Linked DNA regions of Homo sapiens: region 1 is linked to region 2. Evidence: fine-mapped expression QTL. A gene starts in region 2. The other region holds a variant in brackets. All regions are shown on one strand. Distances are between the middles of the regions. Region 1 holds the start of CACTIN (cactin, spliceosome C complex subunit). Region 2 holds the start of GIPC3 (GIPC PDZ domain containing family member 3).

Evidence for each region.
Region 1: its variant is fine-mapped to the expression of GIPC3 in whole blood (TOPMed, PIP 0.98).

Annotation. Positions count from the first base shown.
Region 1 is chr19:3,618,836-3,627,117 of GRCh38, reverse strand. It overlaps CACTIN (cactin, spliceosome C complex subunit), which reads left to right and starts at 328. Exons shown (of 10, transcript NM_001080543.2): 1 at 328-522; 2 at 2,956-3,430; 3 at 6,316-6,411; 4 at 6,846-6,991; 5 at 7,876-8,038; 6 at 8,129-8,243. The coding sequence starts at 356. RefSeq lists enhancers at 1-364, 254-815, 816-1,377, 1,378-1,939, 2,166-2,665 and 2 more. The variant C/T (reference allele first, on the strand shown) is at 4,581.
Region 2 is chr19:3,581,396-3,589,712 of GRCh38, reverse strand. GIPC3 (GIPC PDZ domain containing family member 3) reads right to left here and starts at 4,235. Exons shown (of 6, transcript NM_133261.3): 1 at 3,891-4,235; 2 at 3,033-3,218; 3 at 2,719-2,899; 4 at 158-270. The coding sequence starts at 4,115.

The DNA of each region.
Region 1 (8,282 bases), 37 kb before region 2:
TCGCCTCGGCAGGCCCCTCCCTGCACAAGGTTCCTAGTTTGCCCTTGCCCCGCCCACAGTTTCTCAGGCCCCCTGAGGCGTGGGGACCCGCCTAGGGCTGCCTCCAGCACTGCCTGAAAGGAGACTCCGCCACCCTGGAGGCAACAATCCCACTGGAGTCAATCACGCGGTCCACATTTGCAGACGTAGTGGAAAGTCTGGGGTGTCGGAGTCCTTGCGGGCTGGGGCGACGGGATGGGTTGCTCTTTCCCGGCTCAGGCGCAAACGGGGCAGCCTGGAGAGCGCCGTGGGCGAGGAAGGCCCCCAGCGCAGGCTTCGGCTATTGGTGTTGGTGCCGCGGCCACTGGCCCAGCCGATGGGTCGGGACACACGCTCGCGCTCGCGGTCCGCGGGTCGCCGGGGCCGAAGGCGGCAGAGTCAGAGCGGGAGCCGAAGTCGGAGCAGGAGCCATGGGCGGCGAAACCGACGGCGCCGGGAGGACGAGGGACGGCGCAGACGGAGGCGGCGGAGCCGGGAGCGCAGGTGGGGTCGCTGCGGGAGCAGCGCTGGGGATCCGGCTCCTACCTCAGGAGCGCCCGACCGAGGGTTGGAGATCCCGGGGAACCGGGAAACCCCCGACTTACTCGGGGAGGGCTTCCTAGAGAAGGGGACAATTGACCACCGGTTGGAATTAACCTGGCAGCGGAAGGAAGGCGAGAGGCGTTCCAGGCAGGGGACCGGGCGGTTGGAGGGACAGCCCGGAGCCGGGTGAGCGAGGCGGCGGGGAGGTAACGAGAGATCAGATCATATCATATCGAGCCCTGTGTGCTCAGCACATTAGATCTTGGCTATTAGTCGGAGGGAAATGGAGAGTCTTGAGAGGAGTTTGGGTAGGGGAGTGACGTGGACTGACTTAACTCTGCATACTTTCTGGCTTTGAGGTGGAGAAGGGATGGAGCGGGGTAGGCAGGAGCGGCATCAGAGTAGGACGGCACAATTGTCCAGACAGTAGATGATGGCAGTCTCGATGGGAGGGAGGCTGTAGTCAACCACAGCGGGCAAAGTGCGTAGATTTCAGAGGGATTCTGGAAGTAGAGGAGACAACATTTGCTAATGGAGGTGGGCTGTGGGAGGGAAAAAGACTCGGTGTCAGCTGGCAGGACTCACAGCTGATTCCTAGTGCCTGAATCTCAGCTTCCCCATGGTCCTTTTCTTCTGGAGATGGGGCACTTGGTCGGATTTGCCTTGAGCCGGCTCCAGTACAGAGAAACCAAAATGGGGACAGGGACTGATTCCCAGACCGGGGCCCCAGTGCTGGCTCAGCCCCTTCGTGGCTGACACTCAGGCCAGTCTTGCCCCGCTCTGGGCCAAGTTCACTCATCGGTTGTTGGTTTTTTTGTTTGTTTGTTTTTGAGACGGAGTCTTGCTCTGTCGCCCAGGCTGGGGTGCAGTGGCACGATCTCGGCTGTTACCTCTGCCTCCTGGGTTCAAGCGATTCTTCAGCCTCAGCCTCCCCGGTAGCTGGGGTTACAGGTGCTTGTTGCCACACCCAGCTAATTTTTGAATTTTTTCGTAGAGCTGGGATTTCTCCATATTGGCCAGGCAGGTCTTGAACTCCTGGCCTCAAGTGATCTGCCCGCCTCGGCCTCCCAAAGTGCTGGGATTACAGGCGTGAGCCACCGCGCCTGCCCATAAGTCTTGTTAATGTCATCTTTGTGTTTTTTCGCCTACCATTTTCTGGTATTGGAATTATTCACAATAATTTGCCACTCTAGATATGTAATTAGAATTAATGTTCACGAAAATTCAGTTGAACTTGTGGCCAATATTTAAGGGCTCTGCAATGATTGGTTTCAACATAGTTTAGATTTTTTTGACATGAGCTTAATGGGTAGAGCATTTAACAAAATATTTGGCAGTTCTCTGTGTACAAAGACCCCTAAACGTGACTGAGCGCAGTGGCTCACATCTGTAATCCCAACACTTTGGGAGGCTGAGACAGGAGGCTTGCCTGAGCCCAGGAGTTCAAGACCAGCCTGGGCAACATAGCAAGACCCCTCTGTACAAAAAAATGTAAAGAGTTACCTGGGCGTGGTGGTGTGTGCCTGTAGTCCCCGCTACTCAGGAGGCTGAGGCGAGAGGATGGCTTGAGCCCAGGAGGTCAAGGCTGCAGTGAGCTCTGATCATGCACTCCAGCCTGTGTGACAGAGGGAGACTCTGTCTCTAATAAATAAAAATATAGACCTTGTCTCTAGTAGACTCTGTGTCTAGTAGACCTTGTCTCTAATAAATAAAATTAAAGGCCCCTGAACCACCCCTGAGGTTGTGCATCTTCCATTCCCTGCGCTCTACTCTGTTAACTCCTGTCCATCCTGTGGGACTAGTTCAAATACCACTTCCATCTAGGAAGCCCTCCCTTGACAGCCTAAATGTGTTCGGGTCCCCTGGTTCGTACCCTTATAATTCCTGCGCCACCAGCCCCAGCCACCTCCCTGCCCGCGCCTCCTCCCTCTCCCCCACACTCTGTCTCAGCCATACAGCCTCCTTGTTGTTCTTAGAATGTGGCAGGTCAGTGCCTGCCTCTAGGCCCTCGCTCTTGCTCTGCCTCGAGCACTCTCCCTCCGAATCCACCCATCGCTGCCTCCCCACTCCCTCCAGACCTTGGCTCAGTGTCAGCTCCTGAGAGAGCCCCTCTCTGACCTCGGCCCTGCAGCCCCAGCCCCTGTGCTCGGCATTGCTACTCTTTGTGGCTTCTGCCTCTGCCTAGTGTTGCGTGGTGTGTTTATTTGTTGATGTCTTCCTTGTTGGGGCCCACCAGAGGGTGAGCCCAGGAAGGCAGAAGCCATCGGTATTTGGGTCACTGCTGTGTCCCCAGAACCTAGAACAGTGCCTGCTCCCCCACGGGCACCCAGTAAGCATCTGTGGAGCAGATGACAGCTGCAGGCACTGAGCAGGCATCCATGGTCCTCTCCGCAGGTCAGATTCAGAGGAAGAGCGGTGGCAGCGCTCAGGGATGCGAAGCCGGAGCCCCCCGCGGCCCAAGTGGCACTCAAGAGATGGGTCCTCTCAGTCGGACTCAGGAGAGGAGCAGTCACGGGGCCAGTGGGCTCGCCGGCGACGGCGCGCACGCTCGTGGTCTCCTAGCTCCTCAGCATCCAGCTCCGCGTCTCCAGGGCGATCCCAGAGCCCCCGGGCGGCCGCGGCTGCCCTGAGCCAGCAGCAGAGCCTGCAGGAGCGGCTGCGGCTGCGGGAGGAGCGGAAGCAGCAGGAGGAGCTGATGAAGGCCTTCGAGACGCCCGAGGAGAAGCGCGCACGGCGGCTGGCCAAGAAGGAGGCCAAGGAGCGCAAGAAGCGGGAGAAGATGGGCTGGGGTGAGGAGTACATGGGCTACACCAACACCGACAACCCCTTCGGAGACAACAACCTGCTGGGCACCTTCATCTGGAATAAGGTGGGCCCCGCCGGGTGGTGGCCTCTGTCCCTGTAGCATTTCCACTGTTTCTGGAGACCCCAACACTTGAGACACTCCCAGCCTGCCCTTGATCGTGCAAGAGTTGGTTTTACACACACACGCATAAGCAAGCTTCTGCCGCTATCAGCTTTCTTTTTTGACACAGGGTCTCGCTCTGTCGCCCAGGCTGGAGTGAAGTGGTGTGATCTCGGCTCACTGCAAGCTCCACCTCCCGGGTTCATGCCATTCTCCTGCCTCAGCCTCCTGAGTAGCTGGGGCTACAGGCGCCCGCTACCACGCCCGGCTAATTTTTTGTATTTTTAGTAGAGACAGGGTTTCACCATGTTAGCCAGGATGGTCTCGATCTCCTGACCTTGTGATCCACCCGCCTTGGCCTCCCAAAGTGCTGGGATTACAGGCGTGAGCCACCACGCCCGGCCAGCTTTCTTTTTTGACTCAGGGTCTCGCTCTGTCACCCAGGCTGGAGTGCAGTGGCGTGATCGTGGCTAACTGCAGCCTTGACCTCCTGGCCTCAAGCGATCCTCCTACCTCAGCGTTTTGACTTGCTGGGACTACAGGCACCACCACCATGCCCGGCTAATTTTTTATTTTTTTGTAAAGATGGAGTCTCACTATGTTGGCCAGGCTGGTCTCGAACTCCTAAGCTCAAGTGATTTTCCCACCTCGGCCTCCCAGAGTTCTGGGATTACAGGCATGAGCCACTGCGCCCAGCCCACCGTCATTTTCTTGCCATTAACTGTGTCTCTTGCGGTGTAAGCTTCAGCCATTCTTTGCCCCGAACACCAGCCCAACCTGAAACCTATCTAGAGAGCCAGCTCTTGGCATCATGTACCCAGGACAGGGTTCCACAGTTCCAGGCGCTCTGTCGTCTGAGCTGGTTCTTTCGTTCTGCGCCTGCCATTTAGCCACCAGTCACACCAGTGGCATAAGACAACAGAACTTATCATCTCTTCGTTCTGGAGTCCAGAAGTCCAAAATCAAGGCGTGGGCAGGTGTGGGCAGGACCCCACTCCCTCTGGGGGCCGAGGGGAGGCCCCTCCTGCCTCTCCCAGCTCCAGTCATGGCCGGTGATTCCTGGGCCCTCCCTGGCTTGCAGCCGCAGAACCCGGCCTGTTCCTGTGTTGTGTGG[C/T]GGTCTGCCTTCCCGTCTCTGTCTCCATACGGCCTTCTGCTCTGTGTGTCTGTGTGTAAATGTTCCTCTTCCCATGAGGACACCAGGCATTGGATGAGGGCCCGCCACCTCCAGGATGACCTCATCTTACCTACGTCTGCAAGACCTCATCACTTTTTTTTTTTTTTTTTTTTTGAGATGGAGTCTCACTCTGTTGCCCAGACTAGAATGCAAAGGCGCAATCTCGGCTCACTGCAACCTCCGCTTCCTGGGTTCAAGTGATTCCCCTGCCCCAGCCTCCCAAGTAGCTGGAATTACAGGCGGGTGCCACCACACTCAGCTAATTTTTGTATTTTTAGTAGACAGAGTTTAACCATGTTGGTCAGGCTGGTCTCGAACTCCTGACCTCAAGTGATCTGCCCGCCTTGGCCTCCCAATATGCTGGGATTACAGGTGTCAGCCACCATACCTGGCCAAGACCTCATTTCACATGGGGTCATGATTACAGCTGCAGGGGTTCAGACGGGGATGTGCCTGTGGGGGACACAGCTCATCTGAAGCAGCATCCACTTGTGGAGGGGGTGGAGCAGGCAACGTGTGGGCTGGGCCGACTGCACCTGCTCGCCGGTTGCGCAGTTGGGAGCTGTGGGGTCTCCAGGTGGCTTCTGCCCGATGTCGTCTGAGAACACAACGAGCTCCTTCCGCCTCGGGGCCCTCACACTGCCGCGCCCCTGCCTGGACATGCTCTGCCCCTTCCCCGGCTGTTCTCTTCCGTCAGGCCTCAACTGACACATCCCCTCTTGAGAGACCCCTTCCTGGCCCCTTGCTCCCCAGACCCCCCAGAGTTCTTTATTGAGGCACACACTGCTGCCTGGCACTTCATCGCCACCATGTGCTGTGCACCTGCGGTGTGCTGGGCACCACCGTGAGCTCTGGGCGGGCAGCCATGGAGGAGGAAGATGTGGTCATCGTTGACGCCTGTGGAAGCGGCCCCAGGCTGGGTTGGATAGACCACAGAGTGGCCCGGGTGTCTGGGGGTGGTCCCCAGCCAGGCAGCCTGTGTCCCTGGAGGCAAGTTCTGGGCGGCAGGGGTTCCTGGAACCCCCTCATGGCGACGGGGCACCGGGAGCCTGAGGAAGGTGGTCGGGAAGTGGGGGCTCCGCGCCAGGCTCTCAGACAGCTGCTGGAAGAAGCCAGCTTTGAGGGTCTCCAGGCTGGGACAAGCCCATCAGTGGCCACCCCTGTGCCCCGCTGTGTGGGCGGGGCCCCATGACCCCACAGGTTTGCTTTCAGAGCTGCTGCTGCCCCCACTCACTGTTCCTGCCCTGTCCCACGTGCAGTGGGGGACCCTGACTTGCTGAGGGCGTGGCCTTCACGTCCGAAGCACTCAGACTCCCGGGTAAAGCGAGTCAGCAGGCCCCGAGCAAGGCTCTTCTGTTGGGGGCTGGGGTGGCCCCGAGCAAGGCCCTCCTGTTGGGAGTTGGGGCGGCCCCGAGTGAGGCCCTCCTGTTGAGAGTTGGGGTAGCCCCTTCTTACCCTTTGCATACATCTCACTCCCAGTGGGGGCTCCATGTCTGCACTGAATTGGATGCACTGGGTTTCAGGAGTGTTAAGGAGGGGGTGGAAGACGTGCAGTGCTGGCAGGTCACCTCTCTCTGCAAAACAAGGGCCCTGGTCAATCTCTTGGACGAAGGAGCTGAGGAGGGGGGCGAGGGGGCGGGTCTGTGCTCAGGGCAGGTGTGCCTGGTGCTTCCAGGCCCTGGAGAAGAAGGGGATCAGCCACCTGGAGGAGAAGGAGCTGAAGGAGCGGAACAAGAGGATCCAGGAGGACAACCGGCTGGAGCTGCAGAAGGTAGGCACCCTGCCAGCCCACTGGGCAGGGCCCTCCCTTTCCAGGGCCTGGAGGCCCGCCCCCTTTGGCAGGACTTGAGGGGCTTAAGTGGGAAGTCCTGGGGGCTGGCTTCAGGTAAGGCTGGATCCAGGGGCTCAGACCATGGCCCCAGGAAACTGTTTCCCTCCACCTCTCGGCTCTGCTGGCCTCGGGCCTTCACTCCCACATGCTCCCTTCAGGGTGGCCGAGAGGGCCCCAGCTGATCTGAGCTGCTGAGTCTCGGGCAGGAGGGCCCTCTCCCTTCCCAAGGTCTGTCCACCAGCCCAGGCATCTCCGGACCAATCCCTGTGCCCAGGGCAGCTGGGTGAAGGCTGGGCCCCCATCATCACAGCCCCTCCCCCCGCAGCCCTGCAGACCGCACGGTCCCCGCTGCCCTCAGCCTCCTGTGCCTGCAGGTGAAGCAGCTGCGGCTGGAGCGGGAGCGGGAGAAGGCCATGCGCGAGCAGGAGCTGGAGATGCTGCAGCGCGAGAAGGAGGCAGAGCACTTCAAGACATGGGAGGAGCAGGAGGACAACTTCCACCTCCAGCAGGCCAAGCTGCGGTGCGCTGGGGCCTCCCCCTCCCTCCGACCCAGACTTGGAGCCAGGGCCGGGCACTGGCTGTCACTCTGGAAGCCACTGCTCTCCCACCCTTCAGGGTCCCACACGGCACTTCCTGGGACCTTCCCTTCCTGACCCCTTCCCGGGCGGCAAGGCTTCTGTCTCCTGCCCTCCCCTGCTGGGCAGGGTGCAGAGGAGACGGGCCCAGGTGAACGGCACCCCACGCATGCTGGACGCCAGTCCTGCACTGACTGCAGTTGTCCCTCCCACACTCCACCCAGGAGGGTGGCACCCCCATCCGCCTGGTTTACAGACAAGCTGAGGCTCCGGGGTGTCCCTGCTTGCCTTGGGCCCCGTGGCGGGTGACATCAGGCTCCTCCCAGCTCGGGCCTCCCTGGTGACGGGTTCCCTTGGGTTGGACCAGGGCCCGCCTGCAACGCGTACCCCCCTGCAGGCCCAGAACAGAAACCCGGCTCTCTGCCCCGAGTGGTCTGCCTGGGGGAGGAGGTGGTTGCAAGGCAGTGACTACTCTGGTCCCCCAGCCTGCCTCTGCTTCAGCTCCTCCACTCTTCCCCATCACAGCCCACATAGAAGCCGCCATCCTGGGCACATCCCAGAGGCCCTCCAGGAAGCCCCTCCCACCTGGCCCACCTCCGGGTCCACGCTGCTTGCACTTTGTCTGCACTGCTGGCCTGCGCCCTTTGGCTGACCCGGCTCACTCTACCTTATGCCTCCTCCTCCTCCTCCTCCAGGAAGCCTTCCCTGACCACCCCCAACGGGTCAGGCCCCTCCTCGGCTCCCACTGGTGTGGTCACCCCAAGGGCAGGGTCTTTAGCATGGAGGGCACAGCCCAGGCTCTGATGCCACCTTCCCCTGCTCCCCACAGTTCCAAGATCCGCATCCGGGACGGGCGGGCCAAGCCCATCGACCTGCTGGCCAAGTACATCAGCGCTGAGGATGACGATCTGGCCGTGGAGATGCATGAGCCCTACACGTTCCTCAACGGCCTCACCGTGGCCGACATGGAGGACCTGCTGGAGGATATCCAGGTACCCAGCCCCACCCGATGCTCCTCTGACCTGCACCCTCACCCCCACCCCAGCCACACCCGTGTCCTGACCCCTGCCCCCTGCCCCCAGGTCTACATGGAGCTGGAGCAGGGCAAGAACGCCGACTTCTGGCGGGACATGACCACCATCACCGAGGACGAGATCTCCAAGCTCCGCAAGCTGGAGGCCTCGGGCAAGGGGCCAGGTAACGGCGGGCATGGGCCTGGGCTCCAGGGGAGCTGCG
Region 2 (8,317 bases):
GCTGGTACCAACATCATTGCCCCACTTTTCAATGAGGACCCATTTTGCAGGCAGAGAAACTGAGGCTCCGAGGAGAAGTTCTTACCCAAGACCGCACTGACTCAGTGGAGGAGCTGAAGGTGCAGAAGCCTGGGGAGAGCCCCTCCCCTTCACTCACCGCTTCCTCCACTGTGGCAGCCCCCCCAGAACGAAGCCGCAGGGTCTCCCTCCCGCTGGTCACTTTCGCCTCTACTGGACATTTGCTGGACCGACTTCTCTGGCCAATCATATCTGGAGGGAACAGAGTGAGGGATGGCCATGGGTTCTGGGTGGAGCCACATCTTTGTAAACCCTGGGAGGCCAACAGCCGAGCCTTTCTAGAATCTTCCTCCCCTTCAAAGTCCTCCTTACATCTGTACGGCAAGTCTCCAGAGACCTATTCGAGATTCCACACTTCGCATCCCCAGCAAACTAAATCACAAGTCCAGAATGAGGTGTTGTAATGGAGCAGGTTTAGAACTAACATCCCAGTTCCATGCCCTCACTCTCCCTCTTCTAGCGACTTTCTCTAGAAGGGACTGCTTGGGACCCTCCTTGTGGTAGGATCCTCAATCTAGATATGTTCTTGTCTGGGTTCCAGAACCCGGCTTAGTGTCAGGACTGAGGTGCTAGAAACACACTTAGTCTCAGAGCTGGCCTGGGCTTAAGAGCAGGGCTTGGTCTGAGAGCTGGCCTGGGCTCTAGAGCTGGGTTTAGTCTCAGACTAAGCTTGATTTTTTTTTTTTTTTTTGAGATGTTGTCTTGCTCTGTCACCCAGGCTAGAGTGCAATGGCACGATCTCGGCTTACTGCAGCCTCCACCTCCCAGGTTCAAGCGATTCTCCTGCCTCAGCCTCTCGAGTAGCTGGGATTACAGGCACCTGCCACCATGCCCAGCTAATTTTTTGTATTTTTAGTAGAGACAGGGTTTCACCATATTGGCCAGGCTGGTCTCGAACTCCTGACCTCGTGATGCACCCGCCTTGGCCTTCCAAAGTACTGGGATTACAGGCTTGAGCCACTGCACCCAGCCAGGTTTTTTTTTTTTTTTTTTTGATACGATGGATCACCTGACCTCAGGTGATCCACCTGCCTTGGCCTCTCAAAGTGCTGGGATTACAGGTGTGAGCCACCACGCCCGGCCTAAACTCTATTTTTAGGCATGGCTTTTGGAGTTCACAGCCACGGCAGGGCAGATTCTAGAACCCCATACAGCTCACTCTCCCTGGGACGTCTCTCCATGTGTGCTGGGGCACTTCTAGAATCTCTGTCTCTGTTCTATAGAACAACGCTATCCAAAGGGCCAACCCATGGCTACATGAGGAGAATGTGCTAGTGTGTAAATCAATACACTGTTTTCTTCATTGAGAAAGTCTAGTTATGAAAAAAAATGGGCAGGGTGCAGTGGCTCATGCCTGTAATTCCAGCACTTTCGGAGGCCGAGGCGGGCAGATCACCTGAGGTCGGGAGTTCGAGACCAGCCTGCCAACATGGAGAAACCCCATCTCTACTAAAAATACAAAATTAGCCAGGCATGGTGGCACATGCCTGTAATCCCAGCTAGTTGGGAGGCTGAGGCAGGAGAATCACTTGAACCTGGGAGGCAGAGGTTGTGGTGAGCCGAGATCACACCATTGCACTCCAGCCTGGGCAACAAGAGCAAAACTCCGTCTCAAAAAAAGAAAAAAATTAAAAATTAGCTGGCACGGCCAGGCGCGGTGGCTCACACCTGTAATCGCAGCACTTTGGGAGGCCGAGGTGGGCGGATCACGAGGTCAGGAGATCGAGACCGTCCTGGCTAACACGGTAAAACCTCATCTCTACTAAAATACAAAAAATTAGCCGGGTGTGGTGGCGGGCGCCTGTAGTCCCAGCTACTCGGGAGGCTGAGGCAGGAGAATGGTGTGAACCCGGGAGGCGGAGCTTGCAGTGAGCTGAAATCTAGCCACTGCACTGCAGTCTGGGCGACAGAGCTAGACTCCGTCTCAAAAAAAAAAAAAGAAAAGAAAAGAAAAAAGAAAGGAAAAAAAAAAGAAAAGAAAGAAAACTTTTTTCTCATATTCTCATTCTCTACAATCCACCATGACCTCAAAGCACTGCTTTAAAAGTTCCCAGGCTGCGCGCGGTGGCTCACGCCTATAATCCTAGCATTTTGGGAGACTGAGGCGGGTGGAGCACTTGAGGTCAGAAGTTCGAGACCAGACTGGTCAAGATGGTGAAACCCCGTCTCTACTAAAAATACAAAAATTAGCCAGGCGCAATGGTGGGTGCCTGTAGTCCCAGCTACTCGGGAGGCTGAGGCAGGAGAATCGCTTGAACCCGGGAGGTGGAGATTGCAGTGAGCTGAGATCGCGCCATTGCACTCCAGCCCAGGCAACAGAGTGAGACTCCGTCTCAAAAACAAACAAACAAACAAACAAACAAAAACAAGTCTCCCAGCCTGGCTCCAAAGTGGTTCTGGACGCGTCCTCCTCCAACTCCACTTTACCCAGTCTCTCCCCCACCCCTCCCCCACAGGCTGACTCCATAACAATCTATTAATAGAAACTACCTACGAGTTTCTGATACCCTGCCAGGAGCTCCTTGGCACGCAGCGGGTGCACCTAGAACCTTCCAGCCCGTCCCATCCCCGACCCTCCTCCACCCCAGGCATCCGTAGAACGCACTTCGGGAAGAGCTCCCGCCAGCCCACCCGCCTCACCGAAGGCCCTCTTGGGCTGCACCAGGCGCAGGGTGAAGGGCTGGGACTTGGGCAGCTCCCGGAGCATCTTGGCCACCTCGTAGTGGCGGCAGCCCACAATGGAGTGGTCGTTGATGGCTTCGATGCTGTCACCCACGCACACTGCCTCGATCCGGTTGATGATACTGCCTTCCTTGATTCTCTGCAGGGATCCAGCGTCGCTGGCAGGGCAACCCCAGCCACCCGCCTCCAATCCGCAGAACCCACGTCGACCCAGAGTGGGGGGGGCAGTTGCTGGACCCCAGGAAGCCACCCGCCCACCCCCTCCCGGGCACCTTGATGAAGGCGTAGCCAGCCCCGTTGTCCGTGATGGTCAGCCCCAGAGCATCCTCTGTCTTAGTGACCTCCACCTCCTTGGTCTCGCCTCGCACGTGGGCAAAGATGAAGTCCTCCAGGCCTATCTGACCCCCCAGGAGCTTCTGCATGTCCACTTTGTGGCTGTTGAGGGTGCAGAATAAAATCTTCCCGGGGGAGAAGGAGCCTAGAGTTAGCCAGGGCATGCATCCCCCCACGCAGCCACCCTGTCTGCGCAGGCCCCTGCCCCCAGCGACCAGGATCCCAGCCCATGGGAAAGGGCAGGGCGTGGGACCCCCAGAACAGAGAGAGGAGGGAGAAGGAGACTTCCAGCAGGTGGAGACCCCTCTCCATACCCCGGGACCTCCAGCCCCCAGACCTCCAGGTTTAATCTGCTGGCGCCCCCTGGGGGCTGCAAACCAAACGAACCCGGATTGGAAAAACGCCCAGGAACCCCCCAACCCCACGGCGGCCTCAAACTTCCCATCCCTAAGGGGGCCATCTGGAACCCCAGACCCCAGCTACGCCCAGGAAGCACAGAGGCGCTTCCCCGAGGGCTGGGGTCCGCTCCAAGCTAGGTCTGCGCAGAGGATTTTCTGGAATATCTAGGGGTCCGCTAGTCCTAAGACCTGCCCATCTTTTGCGCAGAGCGTGCAAAGGGGGCCCCTGGGAGTGTGGCACCCCGGGATCTGAGGGCTGGGTCTCTGAGATCCGGCGATTAGGCGGCCACCCCGACGTCTGGGATCCGGGGATCTGGGGTCTCCCGTCCAGGGTCCAAGCTCCCTACCCCTCACCCCATCAGGCGGGTGGTCTTGGGCGCCGGTGTCCGGGCTCCTTACCTCGGTGGGCGCGATCCCGAAGGCTTCGGCGATCTTGGCGTACAGCTCGCGGACGTTGGTGAAGCCCTCGATCTTGCCCGTGGGGCTCCCGTGCGCCAGCTGCGTGCGGAAGACGAGGCGCGGGCGGGCGCGGGGCGCGGCCGGGGGCTCCGAGGGCGCGGGCGGGGGCGCAGACGCGCGCGGGGTCTCGGTCCCCCGGGCCTCCCGGGCCGCTGCTCCCTCCATGGCGGGAGAAGTTCGGCCACCCACCCGGGCCCTCGCCGCCGCCGCCGGATCCGCCGCTTCCTGCAGCCTCCCCTCCCCCGGCCCAGGGCGCGACAGCCGAGACGCCCGGGTAAGGGGATCTGGGAACCCGAGCCTCCCGGGAAGGCGACACCGCGGGGTGCGCAGGGGTGGGTCGGGCCCCAGGTGTCCGGGCCCTGCCAGGGCCAGCTGTGCCCTCCCCGGGGATACCCGCAGTCCGGGGGGGCCTGAGCTCAGGACCCTGGAAGAACAGGGACCACAAATAAGGACAGGGACAGGCCTGGAGCGGTGGCTCACGTCTGTAATTCCAGCACTTTGGGAGGCCGAAGCGGGCAGATGACCTGAGGTCAGGAGTTCAAGACTAGCCTGGCCAACATGGTGAAACCCCGTCTCTACCAAAAATACAAAAATCAGCCGGACGTGGTGGCGGGCGCCTGTAATCCCAGCTACTCGGGAGGCTGAGATCTCTTGAACCCGGGAGGCGGAGGTGGCAGTGAGCTGAGATGGCGCCATTACACTCCAGCCTGGGCAACAAAGCGAGACTCCGTCGCAAAAAAAAAAAAAAAAAAAAAAAAAAGGACAGGGACAGCTGAGGGTGCTGGAGCACTCACCCTCTGCTAGGCGAGGTCATTGTTTTATTTTATTTTATTATTTTTATTTATTTATTTATTTTGAGCTGGAGTCTCGCTCTGTCACCCAGTTTGGAGTTCAGTGGCACGATCTCAGCTCACTGCAACCTCTGCCCACCAGGTTCAAGCAATTCTCATGCCTCGGCCTCCCCAGTAGCTGGGATTACAGGCATATACCACCATGCCCGGCTAATTTTTTTGTATTTTTAATAGAGATGAGGTTTCACCATGTTGGCCAGGATGGTCTTGAACTCCTGACCTCAGGAATCCACCCACCTTAGCCTCCAAAAAAGCTGGGATTACAGGCATGAGCCACCACGCCCAGCCTTTGGTTTGTTTGTTTGATTTTGGAGACGGAGTCTAGCTCTGTCGCCCAGGCTGGAGTGCAATGGCGTGATCTCGGCTCACTGCAACCTCCACCTCCTGGGTTCAAGCGATTCTCCTGCCTCAGCCCCCCTAGTAGCTGGGATTATAGGCGCACACCACCATGCCTGGCTAATTTTTGTATTTTTTAGTAGAGACAGGGTTTCACCATGTTGGTCAGGCTTGTCTCGAACCCCTGACCTCAGGTGATCCACCTGCCTTGGCCTCCCAAAGTGCTGGGATTACAGGCGTGAACCACCGCACCCGGCCGCATTCAGTTTTTTAAAATTTAATTTAGAAACATGATTAATTTTTTGTACAGTTGGGATCTCACTGTGTTGCCCAGGCTGGTCTCAAACTCAAGACCAGGAGGTTCAGGCCATCCTTCAGCCTTGGCCTCCCAAAGTGCTAGGATTACAGATGTGAGCCACTGTGCCCAGCTTCTCTTCAGCATTTAAAGCTACCATCTGACATATCAGATATTTTATTTTATTTTATTTTTTGAGACGGAGTCTCTCTCTCTTGCCAAGGCTGGAGTGCAGTGGCACGATCTCGGCTCACTGCAACCTCTGCCTCCCGGGTTCAAGCGATTCTTCTGCCTCAGCCTCCTGATTAGTTGGGATTACAGGCACCTGCCACCATGCCCAGCTAATTTTTTTTGTATTTTTAGTAGAGACGGGGGTTTCACCATGTTGGCCAGGATGGTCTCGAACTCCTGACCTCAAGGAATCCTCCCGCCTCAGCCTCCCAAAATGTTGGGATTACAGGCTTGAGCCCCAGCCCCCTGCTGATATTTCATTTCATCTTTTGTCCTGTTTGTCCCCAGGACTGGAGGAATGTCAGCTCCAGGAGGGTGGGGGCTGTTCCCCTGCTCTGTCCCCATGCCCAGTGTCCAGGGCACAGTGCCTGGCATACAGCAGGTGCCCAGTGATCTTTGGTGAGGAATGAACGGATGTCCAGGTCACAGATGAAGGAGGAGACCCCAGGCACCAGGAGGCGTTGGTAAAAATCCGCTGGAGTGCAATGTCAGAAACACCTACGTATCCATCAGATTCCTACCCAGGAATGTCGGCTCAATAAACAGCCATCCTGCCTGCAGTGGCGGGCCCTACAGCAGAGCCAGTCACAGCCTCCGCCCAGGAGGAGCCTCACAAACTGAACATGGGGAGAGAAAAGAAAGTGGCAGGAGGGTTTGGACGAGGTAAGAAATTTTATGTAAGGCCGGGCACGGTGGCTCATGCCTGTAATCCAGCACTTTGGGAGGCTGAGGCAGGCGGATTGCTTGAGGTCAGGAGTTCGAGACCAGCCTGGACAACGCAGTGAAACCCCATCTCTACTAAAAACACAAAAATTAGCCAGGTGTGGTGGCGCACACCTGTAGTCCCAGTTACTCGGGAGGCTGAGGCAGAATTGCTCCAACCTGGGAGGCGGAGGTTGCAGTGAGCCAAGATCATGCCACTGCACTCCAGCCTGGACAACAGAGTGAGACTGTCTCAAAAAAAAAAAAAAAAAAAAAAGGCCAGGTCTGGTGGCTCACCCCTGTAATCCCAGCACTTGGGGAGGCCAAGGAAGGCAGATCACAAGGTCAAGAGATCAAGACCATCCTGGCCAACATGATGAAACCCCATCTCTACTAAAAATACAAAAATTAAATTAGCTGAGTATGGTGTCATGTGCCTGTAATCCCAGCTACTTGGAAGGCTGAGACAGGAGAATCACTTGAACCCGGGAGGCGGAGGTTGCAGTGAGCCAAGATCGCGCCACTGCACTCCAGCCTGGGACAGACAAGAGCGTGACTCCGCCTCAAAAAAAAAAAAAGAGAGAGAGAGAGGGATTCACCTGCCTCAGTCTCCCAAGTAGCTGGAATTACAGGCATGCACCACCATCCCTGGCTATTTTTGTATTTTTAGTAGAGACCGGGTTTCACTATGTTGGCCAGGCTGGTCTGGAACTCTTGGTCTCAAGTGATCTGCCTGCCTCGGTCTCCCAAACTGCTGGAATTACAGGCGTGAGCCACTGTGCCCAGCCCACACAGCTTTTTGAATGTACCAAAACCTACTGAATTGTATACTGAAATTTTTTTTAATAAAAAACTGCTGCAAAATGCTATTTTCCAGGCCTGCCTAGAAATGAGAAACTCTAAATTTAAGGTGGTGGTACCTGTGCCAGGACAGGGTGAAACTGGGGTGGGGAGTGAGGGGGGTTGGCAGTATCAGGTTGTCTGACTCGCCCATGATGGCTGTAACAAAGCACCAAAAACTGGGTGTGGTGAGGTGGCTCTTGACTGTGATCCCAGCACTTTGGGAGGCCGAGGCGGGAGGATCACTTGAGCCCAGGAGTTTGAGACCAGCCTGAGGAATAAGGTGAGACCCCATCTCTACAAAAAATACAAAATTAGCGGGGTGTGGTGGCACACACCTGTAGTCCCAGCTACTTGGGAAGCTGAGATGGGAAGATTGCTTGAACCCAGGAGGTATAGGCTGCAGTGAGCTGTGATGGCATCTCTGCACTTCAGCCTGGGTGACAGAGCAAGATCCTGTCTCAACCACAAAGAAACAGCTGGGTGCAGTGGCTTATGCCTGTAATCCTAGCGTTTTGAGAGGCTGGCCCAGATGGATCGCTTGAACCCGGTAGTTCAAGACCAGTCTGGGCAACATAGTGAGACCCCATCTCACAAATACCAATAAATTGACTGGGTATGGTGGCTCATGCCTGTAATTCCAGCACTTTGGGAGGCTGAGGTGGGTTGATCACTTGAGGTCAGGAGTTTGAGATCAGCCTGGGCAACATGGTGAAGCCCCATCTCTACTCAAAATACAAAAATTAGCCAGGCTTGATGGTGAGTGCCTGTAATCCCAGCTACGTGGGAGAATCGCTTCAACCCGGGAGGTGGAGGTTGCAGTGACCTGAGATCCAGCCATTGCACTCCAGCCTAGGCAATAGAGCGAGACTCTGTCTCACAGAAAAATAAATAAATAAATAAATTAAATAAATAATTAGGCAGGAGTGATGGCAGGCACCTGTGGTCCCAGCTACTCACGAGAACCAGGTGGGAGGATCACCTGAGCCCAGGAGGTCGAGGCTGCAGTGAGCTATGATTGCGACACTGCACTCCAGCCTAGGTAACATAGTGGGACCCTGTCTCAAAAAAAAAAAAAAAGCTGTCGGGCACGGTGGCTCACGCCTGTAATC